Linked DNA regions of Homo sapiens. The protein of the gene in region 1 interacts with the protein of each later gene in a pairwise test. Each region holds a gene or a part of one and is shown on either strand. Other genes may lie near its edges. The genes, in order: ODAM, SPATA31A7 and TOLLIP.

Evidence for each region.
Region 2: the proteins of ODAM (region 1) and SPATA31A7 interact in binary tests that used the Homo sapiens proteins (3 or more experiments, as listed by UniProt).
Region 3: the proteins of ODAM (region 1) and TOLLIP interact in a two-hybrid assay, tested with the Homo sapiens proteins (2 studies listed by BioGRID and IntAct).

What each region holds. Positions count from the first base shown.
Region 1 is NC_000004.12:70,190,445-70,199,201, forward strand, and holds the start of ODAM (odontogenic ameloblast-associated protein isoform 1 precursor), read left to right. Parts: upstream 1-5,280; 5' UTR 5,281-5,313; coding exon of another isoform or gene 5,314-5,349; intron 5,350-6,084; coding exon of another isoform or gene 6,085-6,099; coding exon 6,100-6,150; intron 6,151-6,247; coding exon 6,248-6,289; intron 6,290-6,829; coding exon 6,830-6,877; intron 6,878-7,479; coding exon 7,480-7,713; intron 7,714-8,134; coding exon 8,135-8,182; intron 8,183-8,757. UniProt on the Homo sapiens protein: Tooth-associated epithelia protein that probably plays a role in odontogenesis, the complex process that results in the initiation and generation of the tooth. May be incorporated in the enamel matrix at the end of mineralization process.
Region 2 is NC_000009.12:61,184,953-61,193,495, forward strand, and holds the start of SPATA31A7 (spermatogenesis-associated protein 31A7), read left to right. Parts: upstream 1-5,083; 5' UTR 5,084-5,112; coding exon 5,113-5,301; intron 5,302-6,500; coding exon 6,501-6,558; intron 6,559-7,126; coding exon 7,127-7,187; intron 7,188-7,442; coding exon 7,443-8,543. UniProt on the Homo sapiens protein: May play a role in spermatogenesis.
Region 3 is NC_000011.10:1,273,696-1,279,322, reverse strand, and holds the end of TOLLIP (toll-interacting protein), read left to right. Parts: intron 1-2,069; coding exon 2,070-2,284; 3' UTR 2,285-4,952; downstream 4,953-5,627. UniProt on the Homo sapiens protein: Component of the signaling pathway of IL-1 and Toll-like receptors. Inhibits cell activation by microbial products. Recruits IRAK1 to the IL-1 receptor complex. Inhibits IRAK1 phosphorylation and kinase activity.

The DNA.
Region 1 (8,757 bases):
TGCCTAAAGGATAGAATTTGAGAATAGAGGCATTGGTGAAAGCAAGGGGATTCTCCTGAACAACATTTTGAAGTTAATAGTTTAGATTTTTTCAAGAATATTTTATAATTAAAATTTCAAAAAGAAAACGAATATATCAGTATGAAATGGTGACACATGCTTTGCAGAGAACTTAAACAGGGTAGTATGATAGAAGCAGCTGCCCTAGATTGAGTAATCTGGGAACATTCTTCTGTGGAGTGATACCTAAAATGAGATATAAATTATAAGAATCCACCAGCCCCTCACTAATTGGAGGCAGCGCATTCCAGGCATAGGGAACAGCAGGTGAAAAGGCCTTAAAGAGCAATGCATTTAACATATTCAAAACTCAGAATGAAAGCTAGTGAGGTTGCAGCTTAGTGAATAAGGAGAAGAATGAGAAGTCATGAAGTGGAAGAATAAAGCAAAGGCCAGATCACTGAGGACTTTGTAAACCAGGTTTAAAAAAAAAAAAAGTGTCTGTTCATGTCCTTCACCCACTTTTTGATGGGGTTGTTTGTTTTTTTCTTGTAAATTTGTTTGAGTTCATTGTAGATTCTGGATATTAGCCCTTTGTCAGATGAGTAGGTTGCGAAAATTTTCTCCCATTTTGTAGGTTGCCTGTTCACTCTGATGGTAGTTTCTTTTGCTGTGCAGAAGCTCTTTAGTTTAATTAGATCCCATTTGTCAATTTTGTCTTTTGTTGCCATTGCTTTTGGTGTTTTAGACATGAAGTCCTTCCCCATGCCTATGTCCTGAATGGTAATGCCTAGGTTTTCTTCTAGGGTAAGAGGAAAATAATTGAAATAGGAGATAAGGGGAGAAGGAGGAGAAAAAGGAAGAGAAGCAAATGGAAAAAGGGAAGGAGAAAGGAGTGGAGAATAAGAAAGAAAGACAAGATAGCAATTTTTTTGTTTTTTGTTTGTTTGTTTTTTGTTTGTATTTTTAGTAGAGAAGGGGTTTCACCAGACAAGATAGCAATTTTTTTGTTTTTTGTTTGTTTGTTTTTGGTTTTTTTATAGCAAATTTTTTGAAGAGTAGAATAAAATACATTGCTATCAGAAAGCATAACATCTTATCAAGGAGATAAACTTTTAATGCAACAAAATGGAAAAAGATTATCACCAGAAGTCTGAGGGAGAACTAAGGCAGACTGGGCAATGTATTACTCCCCTTGACTAGGACATTCATAAGAGAGTCCCCTCACCACACCACAGGCTTTGCTAAATGTTTGGGAAGGAGGAGAAAGCCTGATATTGGCCAAACATTGTGGACTTCCTCCCTCATGACATCAATCATAGGCAAGTTACCAGAACCATAAAATTTTGTTTAAAATTGAGTTGTTTAATGACGTGTTTTGTTTCTCCAAAAAGTTGTAGTACAAAAACTGGGTTAAGGCCAAACTGATTGCAGGCCCCAAACAAAGAAACAGATGCAGGAGTCATTAAAATGGTAAGGATGGAATTCACAAAGCAAAAGGCAAAATAAATACTATAGAGGTTTAGTACAGAAAGAAACTCTTTCAGGTCAAGGGACAAAAGAAATTACTTTCAGAGAAAGTGGATGTTGATTTACACCCAGGCTAGAACAAGCTGTATTTGAGAGACATGTCTCCCATTGCATACTTGACTTGCCACACTTCAGGGAATCGCTGAAAGTTGACCATTTCTAGCCCAAACTTAGCTGTGTGCTGGCCTCTCTCAACTACTCTGAAACTTATGAATTCCTTCTTATGAAAGGAAGAGGTATATTCTTTTATTTTTCTTAACACCTTTATATCTAAGCCAACACTCCTGGAAATTATAGCCATAATTCACATACACATACCTACAAATCTTAAATATAATAAAATAGACTCACCTCATCAAGCTAGAGTTACTAAGCTAGGACATACTGTCATAGTGGACATGGGATGATTAGTATCCAATAATGTACAATATCAAATAGAAGGGATTACTTTAGTAAAGTCTCATGGTAGTTAACAGAAAACACCCAATGTAATAGAAGAGATTTAGTTGACAGCTTGCTGATTCTCTGTATTTACTGCTCGAGTTATAATTTTTTTGTTAATTGTCTTTATTATGGTACTATGTCTTTCTCCTCTCTAGTTAGGCATCTGGGTGCTTTGAGATAGAACTACATAATTGAGAATCAAAAGACCTGAATTCTAGCCACAAGTCTGGTACCTTCTGAAAGTGTGAAAAAAACTGTAATGTCCATGAAGGTAAAAACTATTTGTATTAACATTAGCACTAAGTTCTGAATGCCTAGCAAGGATATGGACTATAGAAGTTGTGCAACAACTATTTCTTGTATAAATAAACTAATTCATTAATGAATGAAGTCACTGAACCTTCTGTACTTCAGTTTTCTCGTTGAAGCATGAGGGTGATATATACATATCTTGCCTACCTTGATATATCATTAGAAGTCCCTGGGAAATTACAGCTCAGGTGGAAGAAAATTATTTTAAGAAGCGATAAAATTTAAATTCAGTTGTCATGATCCACAGAACATTGCTCTGCTTTACAATGGCACTCTGTTAAGCCTTGATTGATTTTTCAGGATAGTTGAAGGAAAAGAGAGCAGGGATAACATTTTGAAAGCACTAATTTACAAACCACTGTTGTTTACTTTTCATCATCTATGTTACTGGAACAGAACAAAGATATAGATGGTACATAATTCAACAGTCATGTGTACTTGGCATTAGAATATGTTTTTGTACTTTTATTTGAATGGAGGGTTGTCTGGTGTTCTGGTAATTGAACTAAACCAAAATAATGAAGTTATAATGATGACATCAGGTTCCGGATTTCCTCATCTTAGGTCCCTGCAACTTAATCCATACAGACTCACATTGCTCTGGAATTAGACCACCTTTTTTTCTTCCCTGAATGAAGAAACCATTTATTTAACAAAACTTAGGGGAATACCTATTTTGTGACTGACACAGGAATAGATAATGAGTATATTCAACCTAGTTGAATGGAAGAAACAGACATATACAATATCCACACTACAACGTGATGAAAACTAGAGTCCCTTGCTACTTCCCCTCCTAGCTAGAGATAACTTTGCCTCCAATGACACAGGTTCTTGAAAGCTATCAGATAATAAAGCATAGCCTGTTCTTTTTCACTTCAACTGCTGAATAACTGGAGAGTTTCAATTGCTTTTCTTTAAATACTCAGGTAATGAAAAATAAAAACAAAAAGAACGCAATGACGGAAGTCTTCCAATTGTCTCCAGAGTTGAGGAATATAGTTAGATAAACAATTCACCATCAGAATAATTTTTAAATTGACTGTGTTTTTCACTCTATAATCCAGTTGCTGACCTTTCCAGTGCTTGGTCTTGACAATTTTCTGGCTCAGTAGTGGGGTTAGCTGGCTAAGACCCTGCAGCCTGCAATAGAAAATAGTCTCTCAAGAGAATGAGAGCTTATGGCGTATTTAATTTGACAATATTCAGAATAGACCAAAGTCATTAATTGTAAATATATATCATCATGCAATACAGAACCTTCCTCCTAGTTCACTCATTCAACAAATCTACTGCATTTTCCAGGCAACAATTGGTTACATTAACGACCTTTATGTTTAAGCTTTAGTTAAATCTGCCATTAACATCTAGGGTTGTCTAATTTTTTAGTTAATCTAAGAAGACCACTATCACAAATCTCAGGAAAGTTACTTTTGCTAAAAGAAAAACTTTCAGCAAATTAAATTTAACAGAATTTAATTGAGTAAAGAATGATTTGCAAATCAGGCAGCCTGGAATAAAAATACATTCAGAGTGACTCCGGAGCTGCCACGTGGTCAAATAACATTTATGGACAGAAAAGGAAAACGGTGTACAGAAAATGGAAATGAATTACAGAAACAGTGAGTTGGTACCCGTTGCAGCTCTGCAATTGCCTTATTTGAACACATTTGAACAGTTGGCTGCTTGTGATTGGCTGTCACTCAGCTTCTTGTTAAAACAGTAGGTTACAGTTTGTTTAACATCATTAGGTTACAGTTCACTATTATAAGAAATCTTTAGGTCAAACTTAAAATATGTATGGAGGCAGCTTTAGGCTAAACGTAATTCAATTTAATACTTTCTAATAGATATAAAGTCCTACTGGTGGGTTTTCTTCTTTAGTAAAGAAAAATGTCTTTTTATTCTAACTAATGATTTATGTACTTGGATTTTTTGACCAGATAAATAACAAATAGTATAATTATTTTAGTATTAATGAGCCATGCAAGCTCTGTCTCATTCTACCAAAAAAGACAAATGTATTAAAAGGCAATAATTTTGTTTTCCTGCATAAGACTATCATGAGTTGCTCAAGATTAAGTTAGCTAAAAAGAACTCTTCCATAATAAAAATTAATTGATAATACATTGTCAAAACACTTGTGATCCTGAACTATTAGAGGGGAGTCGATATTAACAACAAAAAAACTACAAATAAACACAAAACTCCCATTATGAAGGAAATTTAAATAATAACAATGTGCAGAGAGTAATAGTTGTATTTTGAATATTAAAATATATAACAAAAACATTTTTCAATAAAAACATGTATTCACGGCTATTTTTTAAAATGTAGGATATCATGCTTTATACTTATTAAATTATTTATTTCAAGCAACATGATCATATACAAATACATTTCATAGACACATGGAAATTTAGCAATTTTTTAAGGACTGCATTCAGTAAGTAGAGGGAGAATAACTGATGTTTTCAAGGTCAAATCTAAAGGAAACTAGCCCACATTTACTTAGCCCAGCATTGAGGAAGCAAAGAATTCTGCTAAGTAGGCTTTGAAGTTTTGCTTTTCAGACCTATGATTCCTAACAATTCTGTATTTCGCCCTTGAAGTAAAAATAATCACCCATTTATCCTTGACTTTATTAAAGATATTAACTTTTATTCAGTTACAGTATCCAGTTTTATTCAATTAGAGTATCCAGTTTAAGAATTATAAAAGAGTAGAATAGAATTATTCTAGGAGAATTATTCTAGGAGAATTACTCATAACCAAACCAGAAGCCAGAAATGATCACAGGAAAACATTTCTCAGGGGATAATTTAATAACATTACTAAAAGTGTGGGAATCCATATACCACCTAAATGATTAGGAAAGAGGTTATTAGCTAAGCCATTGTCTGAAACCCACTGAATCACTGGTCCTTTTTGAACAATGATTGGTCCTTTTTTTCTAAAGATGAGTTTTAAAATTTAAGAGAAGTGCCAAGCAGTAGAGCTGAGAGAGGAAAAGAACACAGATCTCGCATGGTTCAGATTTTTCTTTTTAGGTCCAGGAGTAAGGTAAGATATCAAATCTTTGCTTTTATAGTTTGAAGAACCAAAATCAGTGAAATCTGCAGGATAGACTATCAAGTTCACCCTAAATGCTTGATTAGGTCAATGATTTGAAGCAGGGAAAAAAGTTTCACATCTAGAAGACAAGAGAAATATACTTAAACAGGTTACACCATAAATCAATATCACAGTTCAGTTTTATAATCTATTGCCATAAATTACAAAAACATTGACTCAGTTGCTTAGTTCTAGTATATTATTCTGTTATTAGACTACTAAGTGGAAATTATCTGGTATTGGACTGGTATTGTCAAATCTCTATTGAAGTACTTTTCAACATAGACATTAAAATTGCTGCAGTAATAAGTCCCTAGTTGGTTAGCCTTAGTCATGACCTCCCATGGTCTGATGGGCCTGCTCCTCTCCTTGTAGGGCAGCACTAGGAGGAGATCATCTTGTTCTTTAATGCATTCAACCACATCATATGTCTCCAAATGAGTATTTTGTTCAAGCTAAAAGGACAAGCAAACAATCTTGGTTTTTATAAACAGCTTGTCTGAGAGAAAATAAAGAGTTATATCAGAAATTTACAAACATAACTTTTTAAATTTTAAATTGCAAAATGTAAGTAAATACTATAGAATTCACCCAGCTATTCCTTTGATTGAACAATACTAATTATTTTGTCATGAATTTTAAGTAATGTCTTTATAAAGCTAAAGATCACAACTTATTTTCTAGATATATCATACGAAAATGAAAATTATAATTCTTCTTGGATTCCTGGGAGCCACATTGTCAGCCCCAGTAAGTGATTTTATGGCACTACTAGTCCCACTGTGTTAAACCTTCAACAATCCCTTCTTTTTACTATTTCTGATTTTTTTTTCATTTTTACTTTTAGCTTATCCCACAGCGTCTCATGTCTGCCAGCAATAGCAATGAGGTTAGTTTAAATAATTAAAACAATCTCCTCCTTTTTTTAATGGAAATCAAGTGGGAAGAGATAGAAGTCGTCATTTAATTTATACTGTGTTCCTCACCACTAGCTTTTATGTATATCCAAGCACATTTCTAATGTCCATGTTTGATTATATAACAGGTTACCTCTAAAATATTATTCTGCTTCCCTTGATTGATTGTTAATTCTTCAAAGGCGGATACAATATTGTTTATATCTTTTTGTTCTAATAACACCTCACACAGGTGTATATAGGTGTTTAAAAACATAAAATGACTAAACCACTGGAATGTGCTAACGTTGTGCAATCTCATACCCAACAGAGGAGAGGTTGTTAAATCCCAACCTTGTTTTAAATCTAACTTCTAATCACTGTAATTTAATGTAAGCCTAGTGAGAAAATGTCCCACTTCTAACAAGAAATTGAGCAACCAGCTATGACTTGTGCTATATTTGCAGTAAACATTGTTCCTACTCATTTTAGTGTGTAGTAATCTTGATTTCATATTATTTTTCTTTTTCTAGTTACTTCTTAATCTTAATAATGGTCAACTTTTGCCACTACAACTTCAGGTACCTCCATTTCAATAATTACTTTATGGGGAATATTTACCTATTGCTCATTTATGTTATTTTGTAAGAAAACAAAATGTTTCCTGATCCTATTTTGGAAATCTCAGTTTTTAACATTATGAATTTGTCTCATATGTTCTAGTGGCCATTTGCTTGAAGATTAAAGTAAAAACTGTAATTTGAACAACACTTATTTATTGAGAACTTGGTATATGCCAGGCACTAATTCTCACAACTATGAGATAGTTAAAAGTAATTATTTTACAAAAAGTCATGCCCAGTTAACCAGTAACAGCAGGTTGGCAGGTTTAGGGTTAAGGTAGGGGAAAATACAGACGGTTTAAAACCAGTGTGGCATATGCAGATGTTGGGCTCTTTTATCAACCTTATCCTGCCCCATATTTCTCATGGCCATCGGGAATTTAGCATTTGCTTCGTATTATTTGCTTGGTTCAAAATGAATCAAGATGCTGTCCTTTTTTATGTTGCAACATTGGAACTATAGAAATTGTTTGTATTTTGCCTCTTTCTTGCTCAGGACTAATTTTTAAATTCTTTTTGGCATGAAGGGAACATGCTTTCTTTCCTTTGTGTCTTTTTAGGGCCCACTTAATTCATGGATTCCACCTTTCTCTGGAATTTTACAACAGCAGCAGCAGGCTCAAATTCCAGGACTCTCCCAGTTCTCTTTATCAGCTCTAGACCAGTTTGCTGGACTGCTCCCAAATCAGATACCCTTAACAGGAGAGGCCAGTTTTGCCCAAGGAGCCCAGGCAGGCCAAGTTGATCCCTTACAGCTTCAAACACCGCCTCAGACACAACCAGGCCCCAGTCACGTAAGTCAGGCCTCTTTCATTTTGTTCTGAGGAGAGAGAACTGCATGTTTAATCTGACAATGAATATGAATCAGCTTTGAAATAGGCAGGGGTTTTTGAACAATATTTTTTCTCATTATATGTTTCTACCATCGCTGTAAGTTCTTTCTTTTATTTTCTGATTTCTAAGACAAAAAATATTTAAATCAGCTACTCTAGGATACAGCAACAAGCCAAAAAAGTTAAAAACAAGTCTAGGATAAGATAGGAAAACTTCAATAATAGGCAGTTTATGTCAGCACATGTAACGGATGACTTTTTGTTGTGGAAACTTGTTAACACAAAGGATAAATTTATATGGCTAGCTCTAGGAAAAGCAGCTCAGGGATTTTTAAATAACAAAGTCAAGCATACATTTTTATATAATTCTTTTTTTTGGCAGGTGATGCCCTATGTATTCTCCTTCAAAATGCCTCAAGAGCAAGGACAGGTAAATGGATATAACAACACTGCCCATAGAGATGGCTACATACACTCTCCACAATGCTTTCTATTTCTAGCTCTGACTCCTATAGCAGGGCTATAAAAACCTATATAATGATATCACTGTCTAGATAACATCATTGCTGGGCTAGTATCAGTTTGTTGATGTTGGGCTCACTTAACAACTCCTTAAGGACAGGCAGCTAAGTAGAGTCTCCAGGACCCCTGAATTTCCAGGGCATTGCTATGTTGAGAGTAAAAGAGCTCAGTAAGCCCCAGGTCATGTCCTCTCTGCATCCAAAGTGCTGGAAGTTGGGAAAAACTCAAGAGAAATACCATGGGCTGACTTTATCCAAATTTAAATTTTGCTTCAGAAGGAGATGCACTAAGCTGATAATATATGATATGATGTAGAGATAAGAAACACTTGCCCATGTTATTTGGCTGTTATGAAATTCTGCTCAAAACATTTTAAGCTTCTTATACATTTCCAATTTGAATCCATATTACAATCAAATGGTAATTTTTTCCATTAAATAGGATAATCTTTTAAAAATGAATGCAAACTAGTATAATCATCAT
Region 2 (8,543 bases), on another chromosome or scaffold:
CTTAGAAGAAATAGAGAAATTTCTAGAAACATACATCCCCTAAGATTGAAACATGAAGAAATAGAAAATCAACACAAATAATGAGTAAAAATATTGAGTCAGTGGTCAAAAAGCTCCTGAAAAAGGAAAATCCAAGACCAGATAGCTTAGTGGAGAAGTCTAGCAAATGTTTAAAGAAGAATTAGTACCATTTCTTCACAAACTCTTCCAAAAGTTGAAGAGGAGGGAATACAAACATTTTTTATGAGGCCAGCATTACCCTGATAACAAAGACAGAAAAGATACTACAAGGTTGACAGATATTTTTAAGGTGCAAATGATGTATTGTTGGAATTGAAAATACAGGATTTGTTTGTACAAAGATTTGTGTGTGGATAGGTGGATGCGTACTGGTGTGTGCATGCATACATATACAAGCTTACCTTGTTTTATTGCACTTCACTTTATTATGCTTCTTGGATATTGCATTTTTTACAGGTTGAAGGTTTATGGCAACCCTGCATCAAGCAAGTCTACCAGTGCCACTTTTCTGGTAGCATGTGCTTATTTTGTATCTCTGTGTTACATTTTTGTAATTCTTGCAATATTTCAAATGTTTTGTTATTATTATATCTGTTACGGTAATGTGTGATCAGTGATCATTGATATTACTATTGTCATTGTTTTGGGGCATCACAAACCATGCTCCAAAAGACAATGAGCCTAATTGATACATATGTGTGTCTGAATGGTTCCATCGATCTGCCCTTCCTCCATCCCCCCAACTCCTCAGGTCTCCCTGTTTTCTGAGACACAGGAATATTGAAATTAGGCCAATTAATAACTCTACAAAGGCCTCTATGTGTTCAAGTGAAAGTAAGAGTCACACATCTCTTATTTAAATCAAAAGTGAGAAATGATTAAGGTGAGTGAGGAAGGCATGTTAAAAGCTGAAACAGGCCAAAAACTAGGCATCCTGCACCTAACAGCCAAACTGTGCATGAAAAGAAAAAGTTCTTGAAGGAAATTAAAAGTATTACTCCAATGAACACATGAGTGGTATGAAAGTGAAAGAGACTTATCGCTGATATGGAGAAGGTTTGAGTGGTTTGGATAGAAGATCAAACCAACCACAACATTTCCTTAAGCCAAACCCTAATCGAGAGCAAGGACCTAATTCTTCTTAATTCTCTGAAGGCTGAGAGAGGTTGGGAAGCCACAGAAAAAAAGTTTGAAGCTAGCAGAGATTGGTTCATGAGGTTTAAGGAAAGAAGTCTTCTCCATAAGATAAAAGTGCAAGGAAAAGCAGCAAGTGCTGATGTAGAAGCTGCAGCAAGTCATCCATAAGATCAGCTAAGAGAAGCAACAAAGGTGGCTACACTAAACAAAGCTTTTTATTGCAGATAAAACAGCCTTATATTGGAAGAGGATGTCATCCAGGACTTTTACAGCCAGGTAGCAAAATAAATGCCTGACTTCAATGCTTCAAAGAACAGGATGACTCTTTTGTTAGGGGCTTAAGCTGAAGCCAAAGCTCATCTACCATTCTGAAAATTCTAGGGCCCTTAAGAACTATGCTACATCTACTCTGCCTGTGCTCTATAAATGGGACAAAGCCTGAATGACATCACATCTGTTACGACATGAATATTTTAAGCTCACACCTGAGAACTACTGCTTTAAAAAAAGATCTCTTTCAAAATATTATTGTTCATTGACAATTTACCTGGTCACCCAAGAGCTCTGATGGAGAACTACAAGAAAATTAAAGCTGTTTGCATGCCTGCTAATACAACATCCATTCTGCAGCCCAGGGATCAATGAGTAATTTAGACTTTCAAGGCTGATTATCTGAGAAATACATTTCATAAGGCTGTAGCCACCATGTATAGTAGTTCCTTCGATAGATCTGGGCAAAGTAAGTTGAAAACCTTCTAGAAAGGTTTCACCATTCTAGAAGCATTTGCAATTCATGGGAGGAGGTTAAAATTAAGAACATTTGTGATTCATGGGAGGAGGTTAAAATATCAATATTAAAAGAAATTTGGAAGAAGTTGATTCCAATCCTCATGGATGACTTTGAGGGTTCAAGACTTCAGTGCAAGAAGTAACTGCAGACGTGGTGGAAATGGCAAGAGAACTAAGATTAAAAGATGTGAAGAGAACTTAAGATGTGGCTGAATTGCTGAAATCTCATGACAAAATTTTAACAAATGAGAACTTGGATGAGCAAAGAAAGTGGTTTCTTGAGATGGAAACTACTCCAGGTGTAGATGCTGTGAACCTTGTTGAAATGACAACAGAGTATTTAGAAAATTGCATAAACTTAGTGGATAAAGCAGTGGCAGGGTTTGAGAGGATTGTCTCCGATTTGAAGGAAGCTCTACTGTGGGTAAAATGCTGTCAAACAGCATTGCATGCTACAGAGGAATCTTGAAAGAAATAGTCAACTGATGTAGCAAACTTCATTGTTGTCTTATTTTAAGAAATTGCCACAGCCACCTCACCTCCAGCAGCTTCCACCATGATGAGTCAGCAGCCACAACACTGAGGCAAGGCCACTGACCAGCAAAAAGATCATGATGTTGAAGACTCAGGTGATCGATAGCATTTTTAAACAGTAAAATAATTTTTGACTAAGGTATGTACATTGACTTTTTTATACATAATGGTATTGCCCACTTAATAGACTACAGTATAGTATAGACCTAACTTTTATATGCACTGAGAAACCAAAAATTCTGTGTGATTTGCCTTATTGCCATATTTGTTTTATTGCAGAACTGGCCACCAGAATCTTCCCTTCCCCTAGAACGCCCTTCACCCAAGCCACCTGCATTTTCCCCTCACCCATCATACCCACCCCCATTGTCTGGCCTGCCCTCCACCTCCTCCAAAAGCCTTCATTGCTCCCCCACTGCTGGACTGCATTCTGACTCCGTCTCAATGTGACTCAATGGCACTTCCATTGGGCACTGCCCTAAAGAGCTCATCTCCACAGTGGCCTGAAACCAAACCCACAGTATCTCTGAGGTATGCCTATGTAGCAGTCCCATAAGTTATCGTGCACTTTAAGCATTACCAAGTCCAGAACTGTAAATGCTACACATTTACAGAAATACCACTTGAAGGTTTAACTACTTATAACTGTTTCATAATTAGAATTACAAATTTTGAATATTAATTATTTTAATTGGGGGGAGGGGCCAAGATGGTTGAGTAGAAACAGCTCTACTCTACAGCCCCCACTGAGACAAACATAAACAGCGAGTGAATTCTGCATTTCTAACTGAGGTATCCAGATTCCCTCATTGGGACTGACTAGGCAGTTGGTGTGACCCATGGAGAGCAAGGAAAAGCAGAGTTGGGCGACAGTTCACCCAAGAGCTACACAGGGCAAAGAGACCTCCCTCCTCCAGCCAAGGGAGGCAGTGAGGGATTGTGCTACCCACCCGGAGAACTGTGCTTTACCCACAGATTTTTGCAAACCCCAGAACAGGTAATCCCTTTGTGAGTCCACACCACCAGGGCCTTGGGTCCCAAGCACAAAGCTGTGCAGACCCATAGCAGGGGCTCCAGCTGGCAGCCACTTGGGCAGGTACTGAGCTGTAGGAGTTTCTGCGTACTCTGGTGGCTCGCAGAAATCCAGTGAAGCAGGAGATCCATCAACTCCCATGAGAAGAGGGCTGAAGCCAGGGAGCCAAGCAGACCCACTCCCACAGAACCCCACAAGCTAAGACCCACTGGCATGGAATCCCCACTGGCTAGCACAGCACCTGGAGTCTGCCTAAGAAGACCAAGTTCCTGGGGGGAAGGGTGACCGCCATTACTGCGGGTCTAGCCGGTGGTTTTCCCCCACCAGTGCTAGGGAGACTGGGTGGTTTGCGCTGGGCAGAATTCCCCACAGTGCAGTACAGAGGCTGTGGCAGATATACCATTATTGCATATCCAAAGGAATATAAATCATTCTATTACAAAGATACATGCACGTGTATGTTTATTGCAGCACTGTTCCCAATAGCAAAGACATGGAATCAACCCAATGCCCACCAATGATAGACTGGATAAATAAAATGTGGTACATATACACCATGGAATACTATGCAGCCATAAAAAGGAATGAGATCAAGTCCTTTGCGGGGACATGGATGAAGCTGGAAGCCATTATCCTCAGCAAACTAACACAGGAACAGAAAACCAAATACCACATGTTCTCACTTACAAGTGGGAGCCGAACAATGAGAACATATGGACACTGGGAGGGAAACAACACACCCTGGCACCTGTCGAGGGAGGGCCGGTGGTAGGGAGAGCATCAGGAAAAATAGCTAATGCATGCTGGGTTTAATACCTAAGTGATGGGTTGATAGGTGCAGCAAATCACCATGGTACATATTTGCCTATGTAAGAAAACTGCATGTCCTGCACATGTATCCCGAAAGTTAAAATAAAATAAATACATAAGTACACAAATAAAATTTTAAAAGACAAAAAAAAAAATCTTAATTGTATGTGGGTAGTTCCCTTTGATTGAAAGTGAGATAGAAATAATTTTTTAAAACTTACTATTCAAAATTTGCAAAACTAAATAAGAGTAAAAGAAATTTACATTTTGTCCCTGGATTGATACAAGACAAAAACATAGTGTGGAAAAGCTGGAGTTGAGGATGAACGAGATTCTGAGAATAAAAATCCCTGGTACATAGCCAAAATTTCAGAACTTCAGATTTTCAAGGGCTATAAAATAGGTAACCTCAAGCCACCGTCTCCAACAGATAAAAGGAACCAGGTAATATCTATATTCCAGGGAGAAAGAATAGAAAATTGGCTATCACTGACAAAACTTAGTGGGAAGGAGGGATCTAGAAGGTGGGATGGTGGAGGGATCCCCAGCTTGGGGGGTGGGGAGGGGCTGTGCTTCAGTCTCCCCCTCCCCTGCCCCTCTCCCTCCCTCTCCCCCTCCTGCTGCACCTCCCCCTCCCTCTGCGCCTCCCCCTCCCACTGCCCCTCCCCAACAAAGGAGCCCTTTGTGACATCAAGGCCCCACCTCTGTGACGCAGGCCTGGGCCCCAGTCCCTAGTCCCCACGGGGATGCCCAGAGCTCAGTTGCTTGAAAGCAACGCGCCTATTCACATGGAGAATCTTCCCTTTCCTTTAAAATTACTTAGTGCCTCATCGCTAAACGCCCCCAGTTCCACACCATGGGTGTTGGATATCTTCCTCACTTTGGTGTTTGCCCTGGGGTTCTTCTTCCTATTACTCCCCTACTTATCTTACTTCCGTTGTGATGACCCACCCTCACCATCGCCTGGGAAGAGAAAGGTAAGGAACCCTCAGTCCCAACCCACAGAGCTTGATTCTCTCCTTTCTTTTTATTATTAGTTCCACTTTTCCAAATCCAGTGGAGAGCCTTCTATGATGGGAAGTCTCAGAAGAGACCAGAACATCATCCTTCCAGGGAGAGGCAGGGCAGCCAGGGGTTGGTAGGGGTAGATAGTGTACTGGGATTTCCATCCCAAGCTCTCAGTCCATCTGTGGGGGAGCACAGGAGGCATCAAGGCAAAATCAAACCAGTGGACTCAGCACCAGTACCAGTCATGAGACTGGGGAGGTCTCTGTCCGAGACCAGGCCCTGAGCCCTGGCTCATCAGCCCCTTTCTGGTGCAGGTGGCTCAGGGCCCAGCCTCCCCTGTGTGGGGTGATCTGGGGCCTGTGCTGGGCCCCTGAGGGCCTCCCACCAGGGCCTGGTGTCTCCTCTGGTCTTCTGGGAAGCAGAATCCTACCTGATAGCTCAGCAGTGCCTGCGGGCCTGAACTTGGGTGTTCCTGGAGCAGAGGAACAGGGACTGAAGGTGTCCGTGGTGGACCTCATATTGAAAATCCCTCTGTGTGTGTGTGTGTGTGTGTGTGTGTGTGTGTATTTTTATTTTATTTGTGTGTGTTATTTTTATTTTATTTTATTTTATTTTATTTTATTTTATTTTATTTTATTTTATTTTTTGAGATGGAGTCTCGCTCTGTGGTGCAGGTTGCAGTGAAATGGAGTGATATCGGCTCACTGCAACCTCTGCTTCCTGAGTTCAAGCGATTCTCCTGTCTTAGAGTCCTGAATAGCTGGGGATTACAGGCGCCCACCACCATGCCTGCCTAATTTTTGTATTTTTAGTAGACACGGGGTTTCACCATGGCCAGGCTGGTCTCAAACTCCTGACCTCAGGTGATCAACCCACCTTGGCCTCCCAAAGTGCTTGGATTATAGGCGTGAGCTACCACGCCCAGCCCCCTCTTGCTGTTTTTCTAAGAAGAAAAGCAGTTTATCATCCATTTAAACAAGAGTGGGAGGAAGCACACAGAGCTCCCTGAGCAAGACAGAGAGAGCCATGCGGTTCCTGAGTGCAGCATGCTGCGGCTGGGCTGGGGCAGAGAGGGAGAGCCGGTCCTAGCTTCTCACCCTTTCTTGTCTCCCATTGTCATCTTGTCTCTCTGCGTCATCTTGTCTCCGTACGTCATCGTGTCTCCCAGTGTCCAGTAGGGCGGAGGCGGAGGCCCAGAGGCAGGATGAAAAACCACAGTCTGAGAGGTAAGGCTCTGCCAGAGCACACTAGAGTTAATTTGATCTCATCTGTCCCGAAGGGAACTGACTCTGAAGAAGTCAGTTGAAGAAGCCTGAGGTGGGGGCTCCTAGGAAGGAAATCAGAACCCCGGGTCCTTCTCAGATTCCATGCGGGAATGAAGCCATGGTGGGCCAGGGACTGGGCGTTACCCAGCAGGGGGCAGTGTGTGTGTCCTGGGGAGACCAATGCCTGCCTGGATGCGGAGGGGGGTGAGGGGGCCTCCCGCTCCCTGGGAACAGCTGTCCAACTCTGCTAAGGCTGATTCCTCTTTGAGACCACCTCAGTCCTTTCTCCCCACAGGGCAGTTGTGAGGACTGTGGGGGTGGGGGGTCCGTGTGTGGAAGCCCTTTGTGAATGAAAAAGCCTTGTCCTCCATGCCTTGCTATTAACGTCGGGGTCATGTGGCTTTGGACACAGATGGGTGGGGTCCAGGGTCTAATTCCCCATGGTCCTCCCTAAAGAAACAGCCACTCAGCCTCCTGTGAGAACCCAGGCCCCTCCCTCACTGCCCTAACCCAGTCTCCTGATTTCCAGCTGGTAGAGAGTGCCCGAGAGGCCTGGAGGAGACTTCGGACCTGCTTTCACAACTGCAGAGGTGAGGCACTTCCCCTTCCCTGCATCCTTCCTACCAGGGCTGGGACGTGACCCCAGGGCCACAGGCAGCCTGGAGCTGACCTGGGATGGGGAGACCAGGGGGACAGAGGATGGGAGTAAAACCCTGGGGCGAGGGGTAGCAGGAGAATTGGGCAATCAGGGTGTGGGGTGGTGGAGGGGCTGTGGCCCGAGCACCCACTCTGCCCTCCGGCCCCACCGGCTCCTGGCTGCAGCTCGTGCCTCCTGTCTCCTGCAGCCTCCTGGGGCCACACCTTGACAAAGGTGACTTTGGTCAGCTCTCCGGTCCAGACCCCCCAGGTGAGGTGGGTGAAAGAGCACCTGATGGAGCCTCCCAGTCCTCTCATGAGCCTATGGAAGATGCTGCTCCCATTCTCTCCCCGTTAGCTTCCCCGGATCCTCAAGCCAAGCATCCTCAGGATCTGGCCTCCACCCCATCACCAGGCCCAATGACCACCTCAGTCTCCTCCCTAAGTGCCTCCCAGCCACCAGAACCTTCCCTTCCCCTAGAACACCCCTCACCCGAGCCACCTGCACTTTTCCCTCACCCACCACACACCCCTGATCCTCTGGCCTGCTCTCTGCCTCCTCCAAAAGGCTTCACTGCTCCTCCCCTGCGGGACTCCACACTGATAACTCCATCTCACTGTGACTCAGTGGCATTTCCACTGGGCACCGTCCCTCAAAGCTTGTCTCCACATGAGGATTTGGTGGCTTCTGTCCCAGCCATCTCAGGCCTTGGTGGCTCAAACAGTCATGTTTCTGCCTCCTCCCGGTGGCAGGAGACTGCCAGAACCTCGTGCGCCTTTAACTCATCAGTCCAGCAAGATCATCTTTCCCGCCACCCACCAGAGACCTGTCAGATGGAAGCTGGTAGCCTGTTTTTGCTCAGCTCTGATGGCCAGAATGTCGTGGGGATACAAGTCACAGAAACAGCCAAGGTCAACATTTGGGAAGAAAAAGAAAATGTTGGATCATTTACAAATCGAATGACCCCAGAAAAGCACTTAAATTATTTGCGGAATTTGGCTAAATCATTGGATGCTGAGCAGGACACCACAAACCCAAAACCCTTCTGGAACATGGGAGAGAACTCGAAACAGCTGCCCGGACCTCAGAAGCTCTCAGATCCTAGGCTCTGGCAGGAAAGTTTTTGGAAGAATTATAGCCAGCTTTTCTGGGGCCTCCCCTCTCTGCACAGCGAGTCCCTGGTGGCTAACGCCTGGGTAACTGACAGGTCTTATACTTTACAGTCTCCTCCTTTCTTGTTCAATGAAATGTCCAATGTCTGCCCAATTCAAAGGGAGACTACAATGTCCCCACTGCTTTTCCAGGCCCA
Region 3 (5,627 bases), on another chromosome or scaffold:
GGGGAGTGAGCCAGGCCACTGCCCCTCAGCCCACACCGTGGAAGCACCCACCTCTTCCCCCGGGGGTGCCTGCTCCCCAAGTGAGTGTGTTGGGGCCGTGCTGTTGGGATTCACTTGAGGGCCAGTCGGCGCCACATCCCCTCATTGTCAGCAGAGCAGGTTTCTCGGGACACCCCAGGCCGTGACGTCGCAGCGTCACAGCCACCGTCATCGATTTTGCAGCAGTTCCCCTCCTCCTGTCCCTTCCCCATCAGACTGGTAAAGGCTGGAGAGAGTGGGAGCACGGTGCCTCCGTTCCTCATGTTGCCACGCTGTGGGGAGACGTGTGGGCAGGGACAGGCGATGGCCGAGCCCCATTCCTCTTGTTGCCATGCTGTGGGGAGCTGTATGGGCAGGGACAGGTGATGGCCAAGTTCCTGCCCGCCTGCCAGCCGGGGCGCCCAAAAAGCCACGGGGATCCCAGGGGTCCCTCCAGGACAGACAGCGCCCAAGCCTTTGTCTTGTTTGAGGAAGAAGAAAGGGTGGTGAGGGTGGCCACGTCCCCACCTGGCCATGGTTCGGTTCGTTTTCCGTCATTGCCGAAAGGCTGATGAGCATGGGGATGATGCTTCCCCAGTGAGGTGAGGTGTCCAGTGGCCAGGACAAGAGGCAGGTGTGGGTGTGGAGGAAAGGTGGGCCTGGCCCTGAGAGAGCCGAGAAGCAGAGGAGGCAGGGGTGGGTGTGGAGGAAGAGTCGGCCTGGCCTAGAAGGAGCCGGGAAGCGGTGGCCTTCCTTGCTGAGGAGTCCTGGCCTTTGCAGCAGGTGCAGGAGGCTTGGTGGCAAGCCCTGTCTGCTCCGTTTACACCCCTGCAGGTCTTGTTGCTGGTGTTGGTTCAGGCCAGGATTGAAGTGGCTTCTGCTGCCTTTAGGATCCTCCAAGTGTAGAAAGGAACAAAAGTCCTATCCTAAGATTGGGGCTCTAGCGCTCCAGTGATCCTAGCTGGGAGATGGTTCGTGCTTTTAAAGGTGAATGAACGGGTGAGCAGTGAACCCTTGCACTGCTGCAGCTGCTGCTGCAGGAGGAGCTCTGTGCCTCGCTGGTCGCCGAGCCCCGCGCACGCTGCCTGTGCTCTGTGCCTCACTGGTCGCTGAGCCCCGCGCACGCTGCCTGTGCTCAGGGCTGCTCGTGGTTTTAGGGAGCGGCCACCAGGCTGGGAGGCGAGTCTTAAGTCCGGCCACACGGTGCCTTCAGGGGTGTGTGTGCTGCAGTGGCTGAACCGCCGTGCGTCTCCTGCTCGATAGATTGCATCTCAGTGTGTCCTCCCGCATCAGACATGGGGCGAGGGGCCTGCGTAGCTGTGGGGTGGAGATGCCAGGAACCCTGGACGGTGGCCCCAGTGCACTGAGGGTCCACTGTACACCGCACCTGCTGCCCCACTTGTTTGAGTTTTGTGAGCATTTTCTTGGTGTAGTTTGTATGTGTGTGTGGGGTTGTCATTCTGGGCATCGGCTGCAGCTTTGCTGAGGTCTTCAGTGCCTGTGGTGATTGTTCCCCACCGGCACACAGTTTAGTGACACACTTGCCAAGCTGCAAAAGCATCTTCTAGAATGCCTGATAAAGGAAGAGGCTCAGACCGTGCAGTGTTTGGATCAGCGGGCGTGACATTCCGTGTAGTCCGTCCCCAGATGCAGAGGACTCTGTGAGCCCACTGGTCAGTGAAGACGAGCGTGTGCAGTGCAAATTCACGAGTTCTGAAGGGATCAAAACACCACCCCCAGCCTGCTAGTTATAAAACAGACTCGGGTGAGATTTGAAAGATCAAACTTTGATTTTTATATGGAAGGAAGATGAGTTAGTGAAGGAGGCGTCACAGAGGGCCCTGCCCACCTTCCCCGTGGCTGTGCCTGGGGTTGCTGTTTGGGGGTTTGCCTTTCCAGGGTGTCTTGCGGGACTGGTGTTTGCTGAGACCCGAGGTGGCCCCTTCCTCAGGGAGGCCGGTGGGATGCGTTGTTTTCTTCCTTCAGCAGGAGCTAGTGTGGCACTTCTGGAACTTTCCGACGTTTTTACCAAACTTGATCTTTGCTTCCAGGGATGCCCGCTGTCTGTAGCCCCGGCATGGTGCCCGTGGCCCTGCCCCCGGCCGCCGTGAACGCCCAGCCCCGCTGTAGCGAGGAGGACCTGAAAGCCATCCAGGACATGTTCCCCAACATGGACCAGGAGGTGATCCGCTCCGTGCTGGAAGCCCAGCGAGGGAACAAGGATGCCGCCATCAACTCCCTGCTGCAGATGGGGGAGGAGCCATAGAGCCTCTGCCTCGATGCCGTTTTGCCCCCGCTCTTTGGACACGCCGACCCGGCGCTCCCCAAGGAATGCTGTCCCAACAAGATTCCCGTGAAAGAGCACCCGTGTCGCCCCCTCCCGTGGACTTCTGTGCCGCCCCGTCCACACCTGTTCTTGGGTGCATGTGGGTTTTCGGTTCCTGGCGGTCCAGGACGGGGCGGGGGCTCCCCTCCCATCTCGTGCTGGGAGGTCTCAGCGCGCTCTCCTGTCCCTGGGACGTGCGTCTCTCCTTCTCATGCCGTTCTGGAAAATGCTCTTGCTGTAGAGAGCAGCTGCTTCTGCCAGGGTGTTGGAGGTGGTGGAGCGCCTTCCGATTCCATTCATGGCATTTTGTGATGTGATGTAATTGGAATAGAGCTGTTGATTTAAGGCACACACAATCCCTCACACTGTGGGTTTTTTTTAGAACTTCCCAGACGAAAACTCACGCCCTTGCCCTAACGCGCTTTGCTGTGAGCCTGGCCCCTGCCCAGGGCTTGGGTCTGGTGAGCTGAGCAGCTTCCTGTGGATGGTGTGGGGCCGGCCTCTGGCCTGGCTCACCTGGCCACTGTCCAGCCAGCCTTGTGACAGACTCCGGCCTGAAGGCAGAATGAACCCACACCTGGAGTGAGGAAGGGGGCCTGGCACGGTTGGCCAGGCTCTGCCTGATTGCCAGCCAGCGGGCATCTGAAGCCGGGTCCTTCGCCCGCCGGAGGCTGCCGTCCGTCTCTCCTGCTGCGCTCGTGCCAGCTCCGTGGGTGTCCTCCCAGGGAGCTTCTCTTCTCAACAGGCCTTGCGAGGCTGGGGTGAGAGGTGATAGAGGCAGCACTGTGCATGATTCCGAGAGGGTGTGGTGGCACTGCCAGCCGACTGCTGACAGCTTGGGAGCTGCTGTGCCCAGGACGTGGGTTCAGCGTGGGCGAGGAAAGCCTGGCGAGCGTGGCCCTGTAAAAGCTTTCTGAGGCGGGAGGCGCTCACTTACCTCTGACTGCCTGGGCGCTGCGTGTAGCATCTTGGCCTACAGGACAGATTTTAGGTGACACCTGGTTATGACAGTCAGAAATTTGAGAAGCTTCTCACAAGTGATGCACTTTAAATAATCTGCATGCCATTGAGACACCTGCATGTCTGGTGTTTGTGGTTCAAGTGTCTTGCCGCCGGCCTTCGGATGTAAACCCACTGATAACGGACAGAAAGAGAATGCCCACAAGTGGGTCTTCTGTGGAAGATGCAGAAGGAGGAAGTTAGTGCTTACATTTTAGTCTTTTTCTCCCTCAAAAAAATAGGTTAAGTTTCAGTGCCAGCTAGAAAATACTGCTTTCTGCCATCGATTGGGGGTGGTTTTTGTCAAATATACTGTTGATAAATATTTATTTTTGTAAACTTGAAGTGTGTGGTGGCCGTGGGGGAGGGACATGCTGGCAGCAGGCGCCTTCTTCAGCTGTGGGTCCTAAAGGCCTTTGATCCTTTGAAGAAGAAAGACATGGTATTTGTTCAGCAGACGCCGACCACTCAGACGGAGGGGCCCCTGGGATTCCCTGTCTCAGATGGCCTGGTCTTACGCCTGTGTAGATTTCTTCTCCATTGGGAATGAAGGTGTCAGGCGGGACTGGAACGTTCTAGATGGTATGTTCCGTGATATTAACAACTCTAACCCAGGACAGACCACAAGCCACACTCAGAGGCCTCACTGTGCTGGGGGCTTCGGTGTCCAGGCGCCCAGGTGTGGCCACCAGCACCGGTTTCTGCCTTCGCGTTGCTGGGGTGCAGTGAGACTGCCACACGCGTGCACATGTGGCTCTGTGGGTGTCTCCTAGAGAGGACGTGGCCCCTGCTGCCAGCCCTTGAGCAGCCCGTGTGGGGGCCCGAGGGACCCACACAGTGGGGGCCAGCCTCGCTGGAGGGAGAGCAACCCTTTGCCGATGACCACGCTTGCCGCCATCTCTTAGTTTTCTTTTTCACAAGCGCTTTATTTTTTTAATAGACAAATCACATTTTGCAAGGCCTTTAATTAAATAAGATTCTTCTTTCCTTCATTTTATGCTTTATTTCCTGTTTGAAGGCTTACTGTAGAAGTGGCTTACTGTAGAAGCAGCTTGCTGAGCCCCTCCGAGCGGTCCCCAGAATTAGCTGGTTCACAACCCCCACCCTCCCCCGCCCCCGCCTGTGTCAGGTGTGGATGAGGTCGTCACACTCAGAAGGACAGGCTTGTCTGCCAGCTCACAAGGGGAGGCTGCAGTGGGTTTGGGAGCTGGGTTTAGGCCCCTGGTGTCTGAGGGCCCAGGCCTTGCCAGCCTCTGCTGCTCCTGCTCCTGGGTTTGAAGATGCAGGCCGATCGCCAGCTCCGTGGCAGCGGTCACTAAGGACAGCCTGACTGTGCCATCTTGGAGCCTCAGGCGGGGCTCCGGAGATAGAAGACAGGTCGCCGGAGGCTCCCCCTCCTCTCCTCTCCCCTCTGCAGATGCTCCCTGGGCGCTACCCTGCAGGGTGCCAGGCAGGAGTGGTCTCAGAACGTGCGCTTCTGATTATTTTACTGGGGTCCATTGTCCAGATTTTTCTTTGATTGTAAAATATATTTTTACTTTTTAGTCTTCTAATTTAATAAATGATCCATATAAAAATAGAGAAATAAAGTCCTTTAAGGGAAGGTTTACCATGTTTGTTCCCGAGTATTTTTTAACTTAATTCACAATACGCAGGAGTAACGAATCAGTCAGAATCAGAGTTCACTCGTCAACAGACTGGGAGCAGGAACCTTACACCTTCAGACCAAGCCTGGCCTTTGCTTCCCAGATTGAATTAGAGGAGGGAAGTCCCAGGTGCTCCTCCCTCAACAGTGGCAGTGGGCGTGGGTCTGCTCTTCCAGCCCAGGCACCCTCTCCCCACTGGGTGGTTCTGTGGTGCCTTTTCATTTCCAGGCCATTTCCATCTGGGAGTGAGCGTGGAACACGACCCCGTTCTGAGAGAGCCCACTGGGACCGTGGCACCCCCATCTCAGGAGTCTGAGCCCCTAGTGATGACTGGCTCATGCTTAGGGAGCAAAGCGCCCATAAATGTGAGCAGCACTCTAGAGACCCCGAGCCACCCTGGCACCCGGGCACGGACGCGTTGCTGGAGCGTCCATGGACACGGTGGGGTGTCTGCCCCCTCTCTGCTGCCCAACCCCCGAGGCATGCCCGCCGGTTCCCTGCCTCCACCTGAATGTGGCCTTTCTGCAGTGTTGACTCCACAGCAAACTTCCAGCCGTTACCTCTGTGGCTATGACTGATGGCATCAGTTCTTCTGTGGAAAAGACCCCTGGGCGTGGGACTCCTGAGCAAAGATGGAC